Linked DNA regions of Homo sapiens: all the other regions are linked to region 2. Evidence: fine-mapped expression QTL. A gene starts in region 2. Each other region holds a variant in brackets. All regions are shown on one strand. Distances are between the middles of the regions.

Region 1 (5,221 bases), 43 kb before region 2:
AAAGATAAAAACAGAGAATCCTTTCAGTGTTCTTTCTGTGCCAGGCACTGTGCTACATGTTTTGCATGTGCTGACTCATTTGTTACTCATAGCAACCCTATGAGATTGTTAATATTATTATCCTCCTTTCTCACAGATTAGGAGACAGACATAGAGAGGTTAATTAACTCGTTGAAAGTCTCAGAGTTAGAATATGGCAAAGCTGGATTTGAACCCAGACAGTCTAGTGCGGCATCTGTGCTCTTAAGCAGTAGTTCACCTAGCAGCTTGGGGAATGAGGGAGCTATGGCTCCATCCACAAAGTCCCCTTTCCTGGTCTCTAGATCCCTGTGAACTCATTAAGGAAAAGCCTTTTCTCTTGGCTTTAGACTTCTTCAGCTTTGAAATGGCAATTCCTTTGAGCCAGTCTGTCTGAAGTTGGCAGCAAAGGGGAAGCAGAGGAAGGGAGCAGGAAGTGCAGAGGTGGAAATACAACCAGAGAAAATTCCACTCTCAGGCTGTCACCCATGTCCTCCCCAGCAGCCTCTTCCCTGCCTCCCCCATAGCATGGCCTTCTTGGAGTTGCCTGGCAATAGGAAGGGGCTGGGAGTAGACAAAACATGGCAGAGGCATTAGGAGAGGAAGTGGTCCCGCCTGTATCCCAGGAAGGAATTGCTCCGGTCTTGAATTTTTCGCTCTGAATTTTACTCTCACTGTTCTTTGGCCTTTGTTGCCAATTTCAGTTGAACTGGCTTATTCTTACTCTTTCTCAGAAAAGTTTATTCTAAACAGCCAGTCCTGTACCTGGTGTGCAGGGTACGAGGCTTGGAGGTGGAGTGGGCAAGTTTGAGCCTCTACTAGAAACGCGACCTTTGATCTGTCCCTTAACCTCTCTGAACCTCAGTTTCCTCACCAGTAAAGTGGGACTCAGAAAACCTATCTCATGAGATTGCTGTAAAAGGAAATAAGCAAGCTGTGAGTCATATGCAGATTATAAAGCACAAACAAGTGTAGTGTATTTATCCAAGCTTCATGTACCACAGTGTTCATTGCGTGGGCTAATTCCAGGTGACAACTTTACTGGCAGCATCACTTCTTGTGGATTTCAGAGGAGCGTGAAGACATTAAAGTTTTAACCACTGCCCTCAGCTAGACAGCTGGAATATCAGTTCATTGGTCGCTAACTTTCAGCATTGCTATCTGCTTTTCAAATCTGATGAGTTTTTCATGGAAATTCCTCATTTAAGCCCATCAGCAATTCCCTAGTAATGGCTCCACTCTCCTCCCAATTGCCCAAGGAGGAAACCATAGGGGTGATTTTGTCTTCTTTTTCTCTCAGCCCAGATCCAGTAGGTATCAGGACCTTCAAGGTAAGGTCTGAAATTCAAACCTGTTTTATCTCTCCCCTGCTCTGCTTCCACTGCTGGACCCTGCTTCCAGTCCTCATCGAAACTTTGGCACAGATACTCTGATTAATATCTTAATTACCTTACTTTCTCATATCCCCTATACCAGTCCATTTTATATCCTCAAGCCAATGTTGACTTCCTACATTACAATTCTGCTTCTGTTTCTCTGTCTCTCTTTTTTTATTAACAGGGTTTGGCTGTGCCACCAAGGCTGGAGTGCAGAGGTATGATCTCTGCTCACTGCCACCTTCACCTCCTGGGCCCCATTCATCCTCCTGCTTCAGCCTCCCGAACAGCTGGGACTATGGGCAAGCACCACTACGCCTGGCTAATTTTTGTGTTTTTAGTAGAGACGGGGTTTCACGAGGCTGTCCAGGCTGGTCTTGACCTCCTGGGTGCAAGCAATCTGCCCACCTCAGCCTCCCAAAGTGCTGGAATTACAGGTGTCAGCCACCATGCTCTGCCTGTTTCTCTACTTATTCCAAATATAAATAAGGGATTTTCTTTGACATGGTGCTGGAGACCCAAAATCATGATCCCGCATCACCAGCAGAATTAAATTCAAATTTTCCCTCTTATACCCAACTCTCCACAGTCACCTTACTCTCTTTAAATATTTTAGTGAGTCTCCCATGACTCTAGAAATGCTTATATTCCAAGCACACCTGACAGCTCATTGCTCAGATTACTTTTCTTAAATGAGATGGGGTAGAAACAGATGTTTGCTCTTTCCCAATAAATTGCTACATATTCTGACTTCTGTGTCCCTGTTTACTTGTTCCTTCCATGGAATGTACACCCTCCACTCCAACACCCTGACTCTAGCCATCCTCGAACATCTATGTAACAACATCTTTATCAGTTTCAGAAATCGTTTCAGAAATCGTTCTGATAACCTGACCGGTGTTCACACAGAGCTCCAGAACAAGACCAAGCTGACGGTGCTGGAAGGAGACATTCTGGATGAGTCATGCCTGAAGAGAGCCTGCCAGGACATGTCGGTCATCATCCACACCACCTCCATCATAGACATCATCGGTGTCACTCACAGAGAGTCCATCATGAACATCAATGTGAAACGTACAGTAGCCTGGGGAGGAGATGAAGCAAGGTGGGGAATTAAGGATCACAAAGAAGGACAGGAAGGGAAAAGAAGTCTCTCCACTGAACACCTGCTATGCTCTGGACCAAGTGTCTTTGCTGATCACTACCAACTGGGGGAGTTCAAAGCTGCTATCTTCAGTTTTTTACATGAGGAAACCAGTGCTACAGATGGCAAGTAACTTGTCCAAGGCCCCCCCAGGTAAGTAAGTAAATAGGAGAGTTAGACTTTAAACTCACCCCTGTGTGACTCCAAAGGCTGTGGACACTCTTTCTATAGTGGCTTCAATCAAAAGTCAACTAAATTCCAACTTCAGACTCTTGATATCCCTCTATGGGACAGAATCAAACCTTCCAGGTGCCACCATAGTCATCATTGTGCTACACACAAGTCACCTTGTGCGTAGGCTTATGATAATGAAATGGGAAAAATTCCCTCATCCCCCTCACCAGGCATGCAATGAGGGTGTGGCTTGCTTCTTCAATGCCTCACTGCTCAAACCTCTGTGGGAGCATAGAGACAGGCAGGCTGTGGGACTCCGACACCATAGCAGTGTCTGGGGTGAATGTTTACAGCTCCTGAAGCCTCAGTGGGTGTGTGTTACATGGTGCTCTTTTAGTCTTGCTCTTTTAGTTTTGACATCTACAGGCGGCTTGTTTTAACCAGCTAAATTAGACCCTCTACCTTGT[C/T]GGAAGGTCAGAGGGCTTTCTGTATCCTGGGTTCTTGTTTTGGTTACCAGAGAAATTAGATCACACCTGGGCTTGGAGAATGAGTGCCAGGTTTTGTTGAGTGAAGGTAGCTCTCAGCAGCTGGGGGATGCCAGAAGGGGAGGGTTTTCCCATGGAGTTGGCCGTTCAACTGCCCAACTCTTCTCCGACCATCCCAGGGAAACTCCACATCATTCTGCTGGGCGGTGTGTTCCTCCCAACGTCCAGCTGCCCATGTGTTCCTCTGCTGATGTGTGCCTCCACTGATGTGCCCCTCCTGACATCCAGCCCCTTCTATCTTCTTCTGCCAATCTGCTCCTCTCATTGTCAGGCAGTTTGTGTGTGTCCTGCTAGGGTCTTGGGGGTTTTATAGGCAGAGAATTGGGGCATGGCAGGCCAGGGTGGTCTTGGGAAATGCAACATTTGGGCAGAAAATGTTTGTCCTCATCTAGGTCCCTGGGAGTAGAGCCATAGCCAGGGACCACACCCTCCTTCACCCAGCACTTCCCTTCCCCCCTCCCATATCATTTAAAGGGACCATGCTCTTCCCTTCCCAGCACTCCCATATCAAGAACATTCAGAGCCCTCCTGCCCACCTCAAAGAAGTTCTCTCGAGAGAATTAGTAAAGTTGGTCCACAGAGGTCTGTCAGGACTGAATTATCCAGCACATGCTTTCTCACAATATTTTCTTAAGAAAAAGGGTTTCCCAGTGTCCAGAATACACAGTCTCTTCAGCTCGCCACAGGGCCTGCTATTACAGAGCCATTCCCAGCCAGGTGTCCAACATGCACCTTCATTCAATCCTCATCCCTTAAAGTCTTGGTGGTCTTTCCGAATTGCAGCTTTCCAAACTACTTTAAATTCAGACACATTCCCTTAAGGAATCTCGTCATGCAGTCTCACCCTCTGATTCCCAGAGCCCAGTCTCTTCAGCACCACAGCACCCCACCACTGGCCTAGCCCTCCACATTCAGTCTACTCTGACACCTTTTCTAAAGCAACTAATTGCTTTTGGGTCTCCAGCACCATCTCAAAAAAAAAAAACCTTTCCAGTTTCTACTTACGCATACCTTTAAGTACCTCTACAGTGTGAGGAGGGTGTTAAGAGTAACCAGTGTTTCATTTGAATTATTAACTCTCCACAGCTCCCAACAACAAGAAAGGTAAAATGACAGGGGAAGTGTTAGAGGCATCTGTTTCCTAAACCATTATCACTCCAAGACTTAGAAAATATTTCACAATGTTGGTCATTTCCCCCTTGAAGGTAAACTACTTCCGCATTTTCTCTGCCACCAGATTAATTGTTGAAAACATGAGGCTGTCTCTCCAGAAACTCAAATTCCACAGAGACTTTAAACAGGGCCAAGAATAAAAAAAAATAAGAAAAAATAATAATCCTTTGCCTAGGAAATTCCTTCCTTCTTCAAGGGAAGGCACTCCGAACACCTCCATGAGCTACACTTCCACACAGCTCAGGGGAGGCGGCAAGGTCCTCCCAGTACAGGTGTTACCAGCAGAGGGCACACTCCTCTCCCCAGTCCTCCACCAGGCTCCACAGGAAACGCCAGGGCAGGGTTTAAAGGAAGGTTTATCACCCCGACTTTACATAACCAGGTAAACAGAGTCACAGCCAGAATTGGAAGCAGCTTTCCCAGGGAATGCACAATCAGGAAAAGAGTGTGGGTTTCCAGCATCTCCCCACAAGCCACTGTTCGCTCAATGACTCCAGGAATGGTCCTGGTGACAAAGTTTTACCAGTCCACTCAAAATGAGAAAAATACCAGCAATTGCATGTATATTCAACAGTATATTTAAGAGTGTATATTGCTTATATACAACTGTATATGGGTGTCTGTGTGTGTGATGTAAATTCTTCTACTGCCCTTTTTTGCCAAAGAACCAGGACTGTCCATATTCTCAGAGTATATCTTCCTGATTTTTTAGTTTTTCAATAATCTGCCTTTAATGGTATTGATGTCACATTATAATTTTCAACATCCTTACTTGGCAAAATATAAAGTGA
Region 2 (5,221 bases):
GGAGAGGAAATGTGATGCAACTCCATGAGCCTTAGTCATGCTGCTGATGTGAGGTCACTATTTACCACTTCAATCCAGCCGCATCAATCCAGCCGGTTCTTCTGTCTGACTAGCATCCATTTACCCCTCTATCCCAGTAGTTCTGAAAAGCCATCTATGTGTTCCTTTGTGTAATGTAAAGGGCAGCCTGACTTCATATTTATGATCTTGTTCAATAGGATGCCATCTTATTCTCTGTTGGGCATGGCTGAACTTTTGACATCAACTTTCCCTTAACAACAACCCCCACTTCCAACACACACACACACACACACACACACACACACACACACACACGGCCAATATGTTCTAACTAGAAATCATCTAAATTCACAGAGCCTCTTCCCTTCACTTCATTATCCTCATGGCCTCATCCTAAACAACTCGGTTTTTTTTCTCGATTCCATTCTTTATCTCAGTTCAAATGCCTCATCTCTCCCAAAGAAGCTAAGGAAGAAATGTTTTGTTTCACCTCGAAAGCCATTTATATCAGGCTCAGGGCTCTCTCCATGTCCTACAGCATCATTCTTTCGACCATGAGCCTTGCATACTCCTGCCTGGCCATATAAGTGGCATTCTTAAAGGTTCATTTGGTTCCTCAAACGTATTCCACATTAAATAATATCCACATGTTGGCTTGTTGAGAGAAGAAGGTAAACAGTTGGGGGCATCAACAAAAAATCAGGTGAGGGGAGAAAGGAGAGATAGTGAGTGTGGCCCCTTAGGCATGCTGAGTTCAGTTACAACAGTCACACTTGGACTGTATTCAAAGTTGCCCACTCATCCACCACAGCTACTCAAAGACATTTAACTCGCTAGCCATTATCCAACCGCATTTACCAGACGCTCAGTCTTGAGGGAGGAGGGTAACGCAGTAGGGGATGCGGAGTATTGGTGTCATCCTACAGGTTAAGGACAAACATGCCCACTACAAGGACAGGGATACATCACCAACTTCAATTCAGCCCAGGGTTCATGTAGTAAGGGGTGGGTGATTCACTCCTGTGGGGGAGGCAGGGCGGGGGCGGTTGGGGGAGGCGGTTAGGAAAAAGGAAAATCGTGGAAAGTCCCAGAGGAAGTGGTAGTCAGTTCCCGATGCATGGCCATAATGTACATTGGCCATAAGGTACACTCAGCGCCTCTGTGTCGCTGCTCCCCCTCAACCTTTTACTCACCCACTCCTCCCAACACGCGCCTCACCCGTGCCTCCATGCACAATCCTGAGCCTCGGCATCCCCGCGAGGTGCAGGTTCCAGCTTTGCCCACCACCCCACCACCTACCTACATGGACACGTGTGGTTGGAATGCCTCCCGGGGCTAGACGGCCACCCCTCTTGGGCTGCGAGCTGCTGCCCATCTCTCCACCCACCCGTCCTTATTGTGTCATTTGCCCGGTCTGATGGCAGCCCCAAAGCCGCTCATTTGAGTGGGCTAGAATGGAGAAGAGAGGAAAAGGGAGGCACACATTTCATTCACTAGGACCCAAGATGACCTGCCGCCTCTCTCCTGCCCTTCTCGGAGCCCCCCACCCTCCCTTAGCCCCAGTGGGGCTGGAGGCACGAACAGACAAGGCAAGGGGAGCGCAGTCCGTCAAGGTCCACAGCTGCACACAAAGCCCTTCACCTTCTCCTTGCCTTCCAAGCTCCTCCCTGGGCTTGGTTTCTCCGAGGGTCTCTGATGCCCCCTTCGGTGGTCGGCGGGACGGTCCTATTCCCTCTTGCATCGCTGTCTCCTCCCTCAAGTCTCAGCCTCCTCCTCCCCGCCCCTCGCCACATACCCCTGAGGGAGCTCAGTCCTGGCTTTGGGGGCGCGAGAGCACCCCATAAGCCCGGGGCCCTGCGCCCCAGGGGAGCGGACAACGGTCCACTTTACGAGGCACAACTTCGCCCAGCCGTTCCGCCACCGCACTCGAACACACACCCCATCCCCGCAGCGGTCGGGTCTGGTCCCGATCAGCCCCATCCCCGGGAGGCGGTTGAGCCCAGCCACAGCCACGCTCCTACCTGCGAGGCGGCTGGCGCGGCGAGGAGCTAGGGCACCGAGCGCCCCGGCCCGAGCCCCGCACCGCAGCGCGTCTGCCCTTGTGCGGCGGCGGCGGCTGCAGCGGCCGCTGGGTGGCCCGCTGGCTGGCTGGTTGGCTGGCTGGCTGGCTGGCTGGCTGGCTGGCTCGCTGGCTGGCTGCCCGGCTGACTCCTCACTGGGGCTTCCTGTAGGGCTGGACAAAGGACATTTCCTGGGAGGAGCGGGAGAATGTTCCCAGCATGCCTCGATTTGTAGTTCCCGGGGACTTCCTGCCACCGCAGCAGCGGGCGCCCTGGAGGTAGCTCGGGCCAGGCTAGGACTCCGGGACAGGAGGAAAGGCGCTCGCTGCTTCTCTAAGCGCTGTGGGGAAGGGAGCGGCCGGCGGGTCTTGCCCCACGCCCCGCCCCGCGGCGCTCAAGGAGCCCGCTGTCCCGGAGCACGCGAGATCCCAGCGCTGCACTCCGAGCTCGCGGCACCGGTTGCGGGCAGCCGGTGGGACGCTGCCGCTGAGCTGTCCCATGGTTCGGGAGGGCTCTGCGGTGGGAGAGGCCTTTTCTTTAAAAACTGGGAAGTTTGTGGTGGGTTCGCTTTTTAAAAATTAATCTAAAAACACAAAATCTATCTTTTAAAATAGATTTTCTTTTTGTCTTTTACGCCGTTGACATCCTGCTGGGGGCCGATTAAAGAACTTGATTGCTCACCAGGAATTCAGGTTCCTTAAGATCTTGGCGCTTCATCTTTAAAACCATACAGAGCTGATTGTTTCCAGATCCCGACCCGGTGACATTCCTCCCTCATTGTTGACCTTGTCCCAAACATCTTTTCAAGAAAAGCAATTAAATTGAGATTGAAAATAAATTACGTAAATTAAATATTAGACGTGAAAACCTGTGTGCTGCTGAATTAGGAAAGTGCTGGACTTTCTGCGTATCTTTCCTTCATTAACCTTTAGGATTCAGCTTCTTGGTCCCATAAAACAGATGTGCTGGCCACTGTATATTGAGTGTGTGTATTTCGGGAGTGGAAGGGTGAGGAGAAGAGGACATTGGCTACAAGAGAGGAACTCTACTTCCAGCCTAGCAAGAGTCTATGATGCCCTGCACATGTTTTTGTCTATTTCTGGGACCACAGACTCAGGACCCTTAGAAAATCAAGGAAGGACCACATAGAGACTAAATGACTAAAAGCTATATTCTCTCCTGGAGCATGAGCAGAAAGTAATAAACTGAACTAGGAAAGGACAAGTTCTAGGATGCTCTAGAATGTGTTTGAAAAGTAATCAGATAGAAAAGTCTCTGGGAGGCCGGGCGCGGTGGCTCACGCCTGTAATCCCAGCACTTTGGGAGGCCGAGGCGGGCGTACTACGAGGTCAGGAGATGGAGACCATCCTGGCTAATACGGTGAAACCCCGTCTCTACTAAAAAAAAAAACACCAAAAATTAGCCGGGCGTGGTGGCGGGCACCTGTAGTCCCAGCTACTCGGGAGGCTGAGGCAGGAGACTGGAATGAACCTGGGAGGCAGACCTTGCAGTGAGCTGAGATCATGTCAGTGCACTCCAGCCTGGGCAACAAAGTGAGACTCCGTCTCAAAAAAAAAAAAGAAAGAAAGAAAGAAAAGTCTCTGGGCTTGGTGGCTCATGCCTGTAATCACAGCACTTTGGGAGGCCGAAGTGGGAGGGTCACTTGAGCCCAGGAGTTCAAGACCAGCCTGGGCAACACAGTGAGACCCTGTTTCTACGAAAAGTAAAATAAAATAAATAGCGGGTGTGGTGGCGCGTACCTGTAGTCCCAGCTACTCGGTCGTTTAAGTGGAAGGGTCGTTTGAGACTGGGAGTTTGAGGCTGCAGTGAACCGTGATTGCACTCCAGCCTGGGTGACAGATTGAGACTCTGTTTCAAAAAATAAGGTCATAATTACGTGTCACTTCCACTTGTCATTTCACATTTTAAATCCATATGATTAAAACATTTGGGTGAAGGGTTTAGCTTACATTTAAGTAAAGTTTATGCTAGAGTTCTCTTTCTCTAGAGATCCTTAACCTCACGGATAAGATGGCCTGGATTAAAATGTAGAATTGATGAGAAGCATGCAGATAGGACTGTTCACCTCCCAAAAGTTCCTGTTGTATGCCCACCCTAAAGGTCCTGCTGTATGCCCACTCTGTTGACTGTCCACCTAAATTAATTGTGCTGTGATCCTTGCATTTTCTGGACCCTACAAATTACTGCTCCTTCATATTCTCAACCTGGTAACATTCCAGTGAAACTAATCTCCCCATCTCCACCCCAAAGAATTGATTATTGTTTTGCAAATCAAGTAGCCTCTAATAGTGTTCAGTCTGAAAAACATGATATACTTGCTTGTAGCATTTAACATATAACATTGCCCATTGAAACTATTTTTTGCCTTGCTTTTAATACAACACACTCTCCTCCTTCTCCTACACTTCTAACTTGAGCTCAGAATAATTGAACTTTCACTCATTATTTCACGCCATTCCAAACCTGTCCCATCCTTTTGTTTCCAATCTCAGTTATTTTGTTACTTCAACAAAGTTTTGTTTAACATTTATTCATGCTAGTCTCCATGTCTGGAGTAGACATGTAACATTCAACAGTAAGATATTTTACTGAGTAACTACCAGCTATGTCTTACCCCCAAGAAGCCCACACTCCAGTTGAAAAGACAGATGTCACAAAATTACTTCACAGTGTTTAAGGGCTATAATGCTGCCTTATACTGGGGTTCGTGTTCTGTAAAAGTGGGGCTCTTTCCATAAGCCTTCTGTTCCAGTGAGTGGCAGGAGTGGACAGGAGTGGCCAGAGGAAGGCTTGGGAGGGAGGAAATACAGACGGTAAAGAAGACATGTAGTATGTGAAATTTGGTTCTGAACAGGGTGGTAGCTGAGAAGGAAGTCGGATCAAAGGACATTCTTCTGTTTGTAGGGGTTTTATTTGTTCGGTTTTTAAGATGAGAGAGCCTTGAGGATGTTTAAATGCTGATGAGAAAAGTCTTGGAGAGAAACAAAGGGTAACAAAGAGGAACGAAAGAGGATAAGGGATTCTTATTCAACAAATACTTGTTGAATTAACTAATTCCTGCAACTTAGTGTTGAAAATGTTGAGATTGAAATGACCAAACTGCATATTCCCAGCTAAGA
Region 3 (5,221 bases), 24 kb before region 2:
AAAGGCCAGCAAAACTCTGAGCTAGTTGACTTTTTAGCAGGTCACTGGGCAACTGTTGGTCTAAAGTTCACTTGAAACACCTACATCAAGGTGAGGTGGGAAAAGGAAAGTCACACATAGCTGTGATTGTTCCTTTTCCCTGCACTTAAAACACCACAGTTGAGACCTGAAAGAAATACTGGGTGTGGCACACACCTGGGATGGGCGAGGGCGGGGGAGGGGGGTCATCCAGGTAAACCACCTTGACCCAGCATGAAGCTAGAGTATTTTCAAGGAAGTAGCAAAGAACCCGGGACAGAATCAGGATTTCCCACATCAGAGAACCAGTTATAAATGAATTTCTAAACCCCAGACATTGCCCCTTGAAATGAGTGTGGCGTTTTTCAGCCCACTTCCCCTTGGATGCCTCAAAATAGCAGCTAACTGTGGCTCAGAGAAAGGAAAAGTACATTAAATATCCTGTCCTATGTGACTGACAAGGTTCCCCTACTTTTTGTGAGACAACAGGTGATGTGTGGAGATCGGGCAAACTCTTGGTGGGACCAAGATAGAATCACTTATACTTGGTTTTATTTCGCCCCATAACCCTCATTTAAACCCTCTCCCCGCAACCTTCTACAGGCCATCGCGGCCTACCCTAGTCTATTGCCCGCCATCCTGTTCCCACCCCAGCCCACGAACTGCCCTTCCTCAAAGTGCCTGGTCCTCCAAGCTCTTCACCCCCTACAGCGTGTATTTAAGGAAGTCATCACCCCAAGCGCATCTCCTGAACAATTCTTCCGTGGAGAGGAGGCAAGTATAGCACCGGGAAAGACCAACTTACTCAACACTCCTCCCACTTCAGGAAACCCCAAACACCAAAGGCTCCCCAGTCACTCTCAGATTGTCCCTCCCGCCCCTTCCCCACTTCCTTCCCCTGGGTCAGTCCCAGGATATCTACCCCCCACAGGCTCCCCAGACGGCAGCCTCCCGCGGACCCAGCCCCTAACACAGGTGCAGCTTCTGGTGCTGCGCGAGGTGCGTTTTATAGCGGAAGCCTTTGCCGCAGCCCGCACACTTGTGCGGCTTGTTGCCCGTGTGGATGCGGCGGTGGCGGATCAGGTGGGAGCTCTGGATAAAGCTCTTGCCGCACTCGATGCACGTGTAGGGCTTCTCGCCCGTGTGCGTGCGCTGGTGCTGCGTGAGCGTGGAGAAGTCGCTGAAGCGCTTCTCGCACTGGCCACAGCGGAAGGGCTTCTCGCCGGTGTGCACGCGCAGGTGGTTCACCAGGTGCGAGTTACGCCCGAAGCCCTTCCCGCACTCGCGGCACACGTAGGGCCGCTCACCCGAGTGCGTGCGCTTGTGCGTGAAGAGGTGCGAGCTGACGCTGAAGGTCTCGCCGCACTCGGAGCACATGTAGGGCTTCTCGCCCGTGTGCACGCGCTGGTGCTTCACCAAGTCCGAGCGCCAGCTGAAGCGCTTGCCGCACTCGCCACAGCCGTGCGGCTTCTCGCCCGTGTGGATGCGCTGGTGGTTGGCCAGGTGCGAACGGCGCACGAAGCCCTTGCCGCACTCCCCGCAGGCGAAGGGCCGCAGCGCCGCCGCCCCCGCGCCGCTGGCCGCCGCGTGCGCGCGCCGGTGGCTCAACAGATGCGAGCTGAGGCTGAAGGCCTCGCCGCACTCGGGGCACGGGTAGGGCTTCTCGCCCGTGTGCAGGCGCCGGTGCTTGAGCAGGTCGGCGCGCCAGCTGAAGCTCTTGCCGCAGTCGGCGCACAGGTTGGGCCGCTCGCCCGTGTGCAGGCGCAGGTGGTTGGTCAGGTAGGTGTTGCGGCTGAAGCCCTTGCCGCACTCCCCGCAGCGGAAGGGCTTTTCGCGCGGGGGCCGGGCCAGCGGGGGCCCGGCCCCGAAGCCCCCCGCCACACCCACCCCCATCATGCCCACCATCGCGTCGCACTCGCCCGCCAGGCCGAAGGGCTCCAGGCTGGCGGCGGCAGCGGCCTCAGCCAGGCGGTGAATGCGCTGGTGCTGCAGGAAGGCGGCGCCAGGACTGAAGCTCTCCCCGCAGTCGGGGCAGATGGTGGGCGCGTCCATGATGCTGGCCACCAGGCTATCCAGCTCCCCGAGGTCCAC[G/C]GCCATGGGGTGGTGGAGCCGGTGGAAGCGGCGGTGGGCGGGCTTGTCACCTCGGTGCCGACTCCCCAGGGAGAGATGTCGCCTCCAGGGAAGTACGGGAGGGGCCGGCTGCTCCTCTTCCTCCTCCAGCCGGTTCTCCCCAGCACTCTCGTCGTCGTCCTCCCGGAGGCTCCGGGATATGCTGTCAGACTCAGACAGTCCTGGGAACATCGCCATGTCAGCTACACCGGATTGGTCATCCTCTTCCCCACGGACAGAAACGCCTTCTTCCTCACTCAGCTGCCCCTCTGCAACAGAAAAAGGTGGCAGTGGGGGATTACTATACTTGGCATTCAAAAGATAAGCCCAGAGGAAACCTCAGTAATAAAACTGTGATCCCCTCCCTCAGGCACTCTGGATCCCTGCCCCTCCAAGACCCCCTGAGAGTTTAGCCTCTCTCAACTGGATCCTCCAGGGAAAGGCCTAAAGGAGAGTGCACTCATTGCCCCCTCTGCCCACCAGTTCTTCAGGCAGCCTCCTCGGGCCCAGGCCCCCCTAGCTGGACCCGAGGCACTGCCTAGCAGAGCCATCTGAAGGCCTGACTGCCTGTGTTCAGGATATTCAAGTCTGTGCCAGGTGGGACACTACGTAAGATCTCAGGAGAAAAGGTTTACTCACTCCAAGAGCTACCAATGCCTTTTAAGATTCTAGTCTCAAAAGACAAGAACAGTCTGCCAACCTGAGAAAGACCACTTGGCCTAACCAGGCCCTGGACTAATTTTTTCTTTTTCTCTTTTTATTTTTGAGACAGAGTCTTGCTCTGTCGTCCAGGCTGGAGTGCAGTGGCGCAATCTTGGCTCACTGCAACCTCCGCCTCCTGGGTTCAAGCGATTCTCCTGTCTCAGCCTCCTGAGTAGCTGGGATTACAGGCTCATGCCACCACGCCCAGCTAACTTGTATTTTTAGTAGACATGGGGTTTCACCATGTTGGTCGGGCTGGTCTCGATCTCCTGACCTCGTTTTCTGCCCACCTCGGCTCCCAAAGAGCTGGGATTACAGGCATGAGCCACTGCGCCCAGCCCTCAGGACTAATTTTTAAAGTACATTTGGTCAGTCTGAAACAGCTTATGATGGAACAAAAAACTGAACTCACCTTCAGGACTTTGCTATGGGTGGGGGGAGGGGGATAGTAGTGGGGAATAGAGAAAGAGATTACAGAGCCTAGAGCTGGTGAGCCCAGGTTAGAGGCTGATCCAGGACACACACCTGTTGGTCTCTGGCTGCGTATCCCCAAGCAGAGGGAAGTTGCTGAGATGTGAAAGGCCTCACATGTGCCCTCCTGCACATGCTTCTGTGCACTGCGGAGGAGGGCAGCAGGGAGTCTGGGACTGTGTCACAGGGGAAGGAATGTAACCTCTCAGTCCTGGCCATAAAGTATTTTAGCTCATTTCTGTCCCCAGAGCATGCACTGAGCAGGATAAAGTAATGAATGCCCAAAGACAGAAACAAGGAGGTGGGTGGAGGCCCAGCATTCACTCTTTCAGGTCAGTAAGAGTAAGGCATTTAGCAGAGGCCATGGGCACTTTGGGAATTAGCCACATGAACCTAGGCAGGTCACTTACCAGTGAGATGACTTATCTGCAAAGGGAGATGAGGACGTAACTGTAAACATCTGGATACCTCCTATTTGCACAGTACTGTGCTTAGTAACTCTATATGCAGCAACTCATTTAACTCTCCCAATAACACTGTGAGGTAGATTCTATTACTAGCTGGGTAATTCTACTGTAGTGTTGTTCCAGGGGTTAATTTATAGCAGCATTCTCTACACTGTAAAAAGTACTGCGCCAGTGAGTGAGCCTCTTCACAGCTCACCTCAGACTGGGCTGAAAAAAAGGATGGTCTTCAGGCTAACACAAGAGAGGCAAGTCAGTACAGAATCCTGCTTAATGGTCCCCTCTATGGAACTCCCTTACAGAGAATGCTGTCGCTAGTTATGATTCTAGAGGAGCTAGAAGTAAGTGTAACTTTGGCAACTTGCATAGAAATCCCAGCTTTCTCCTCACCTGTGCAGATGTCGGGCACTGCTTCCCTGTGCCTTGAGTCCTGTGGGTTGGAGCCCATCTCCGGCTCCGGATGGCCTTCTCTCTTGTTTGTGTCATGTGGATTAGAGCCCATTTCTCTTTCTTCTGGGTCCCCTTCCCTGTCCTCAGAGTCCTCAAAATCAGAACCCATCCCTTTGTCTTCTGAGTCCTGGTGTGCACAGACACCCTGATTATCTTCTTGTTTCATCCAGGAAGAAAAGAGCAAGGGAGGTGACCAGGAATCCCTGCTCCAGAAAAACACAAAGAAAGGTCACGTCAGTCCGGTCTCATCCCCTCACCACGCCCAGCCTTAATTTCCAATTCTAATAAAATGTATGGAGTTCCAAGCCCCAGATGGCAAACCTCCACTTCACTCCACATTTTAAAGTAAACAAGTGAGTGCAAAGGAGGGTGGACTGGGTGGCAGAAGAACAGTGACAACCTCACTATGAGGTTGGATGCCAACTCTCACTGGACCAAATCTTGATCTTCTGGCTATGATATGGATGTCTATTAGTGTGGTTTTATAGTTTAACAGTGAACTAGATGTTCCCATTTTTACAGCTGAGAAAACTTGAAACTCAAAAAGAAGAGGCCACTAGCCCAAGGCTACATAAACTTATAAGCAGTAGAGTGGGGATTAAGCAATTGGGCTGCCTCAAAGTTCCATGCTTTTCATACTCTTATTAAGCTTGCTCGCCTCCAGCCCACAGCAACCTTGCAAGTATTTTGGTTATCGTGCAAGTATTTTGGCTAATTTAAGGAGCCAGAGGAAAAGTACATCAAGACACAAGAATAATAGAAGCATCAAGTATAGTAACTTCTTGTCTAAGACCATGTCACCAACAGCACCACCAACCTGGCTTTTGTAGTGAGGATCTACTTTGCAGGGAGGAATGAGCCAAGATGATTCAAGTAGGCCTGGTGGGGCCAAGAAAAAGAGGTACAGGGGACCCTCTATATTAGAAGCCATCTCTATCATCCTAATTACATATTTTACAGTATCCGAATTGTAGAGAACCCTTAACAGGAACATACACCAGAGATAA

Direction of the effects. Positions count from the first base shown, and alleles are read on the strand shown. Sizes are in standard deviations (SD) of each study's normalised expression.
For the expression in prefrontal cortex of the gene that starts at base 2,238 in region 2, allele T in region 1 goes with a lower level than allele C (small effect, 0.30 SD a copy in ROSMAP).
In carriers of allele C in region 3, the expression in prefrontal cortex of the gene that starts at base 2,238 in region 2 tends to be lower than with G alone (moderate effect, 0.45 SD a copy in GTEx).

The links. PIP is the estimated chance that this variant, and not a neighbour inherited with it, causes the effect. A credible set is the group of variants that fine-mapping cannot tell apart.
Region 1: its variant is the best candidate, but not a certain one, in a credible set for the expression of ZNF697 in prefrontal cortex (ROSMAP, PIP 0.65).
Region 3: its variant is the best candidate, but not a certain one, in a credible set for the expression of ZNF697 in prefrontal cortex (GTEx, PIP 0.53).

The regions. Positions count from the first base shown.
Region 1 is chr1:119,602,911-119,608,131 of GRCh38, forward strand. It overlaps the pseudogene HSD3BP5. Among named protein-coding and RNA genes, the nearest start is that of LINC00622, 6.2 kb to the left of the region's middle. RefSeq lists an enhancer at 1,803-3,002. The variant C/T (reference allele first, on the strand shown) is at 3,180.
Region 2 is chr1:119,646,029-119,651,249 of GRCh38, forward strand. It overlaps ZNF697 (zinc finger protein 697), which reads right to left and starts at 2,238. Exons shown (of 3, transcript NM_001080470.2): 1 at 1,663-2,238. It overlaps LOC124904389 (a long non-coding RNA gene), which reads left to right and starts at 2,288. Exons shown (of 2, transcript XR_007066506.1): 1 at 2,288-2,359; 2 at 2,696-2,948. RefSeq lists silencers at 1,655-1,818, 2,116-2,175 and enhancers at 2,234-3,074, 2,246-2,315.
Region 3 is chr1:119,621,721-119,626,941 of GRCh38, forward strand. ZNF697 (zinc finger protein 697) reads right to left here. Exons shown (of 3, transcript NM_001080470.2): 2 at 4,155-4,417; 3 at 1-2,396. The coding sequence starts at 4,380. The coding sequence ends at 985. Among named protein-coding and RNA genes, the nearest start is that of ZNF697, 24 kb to the right of the region's middle. The variant G/C (reference allele first, on the strand shown) is at 2,110.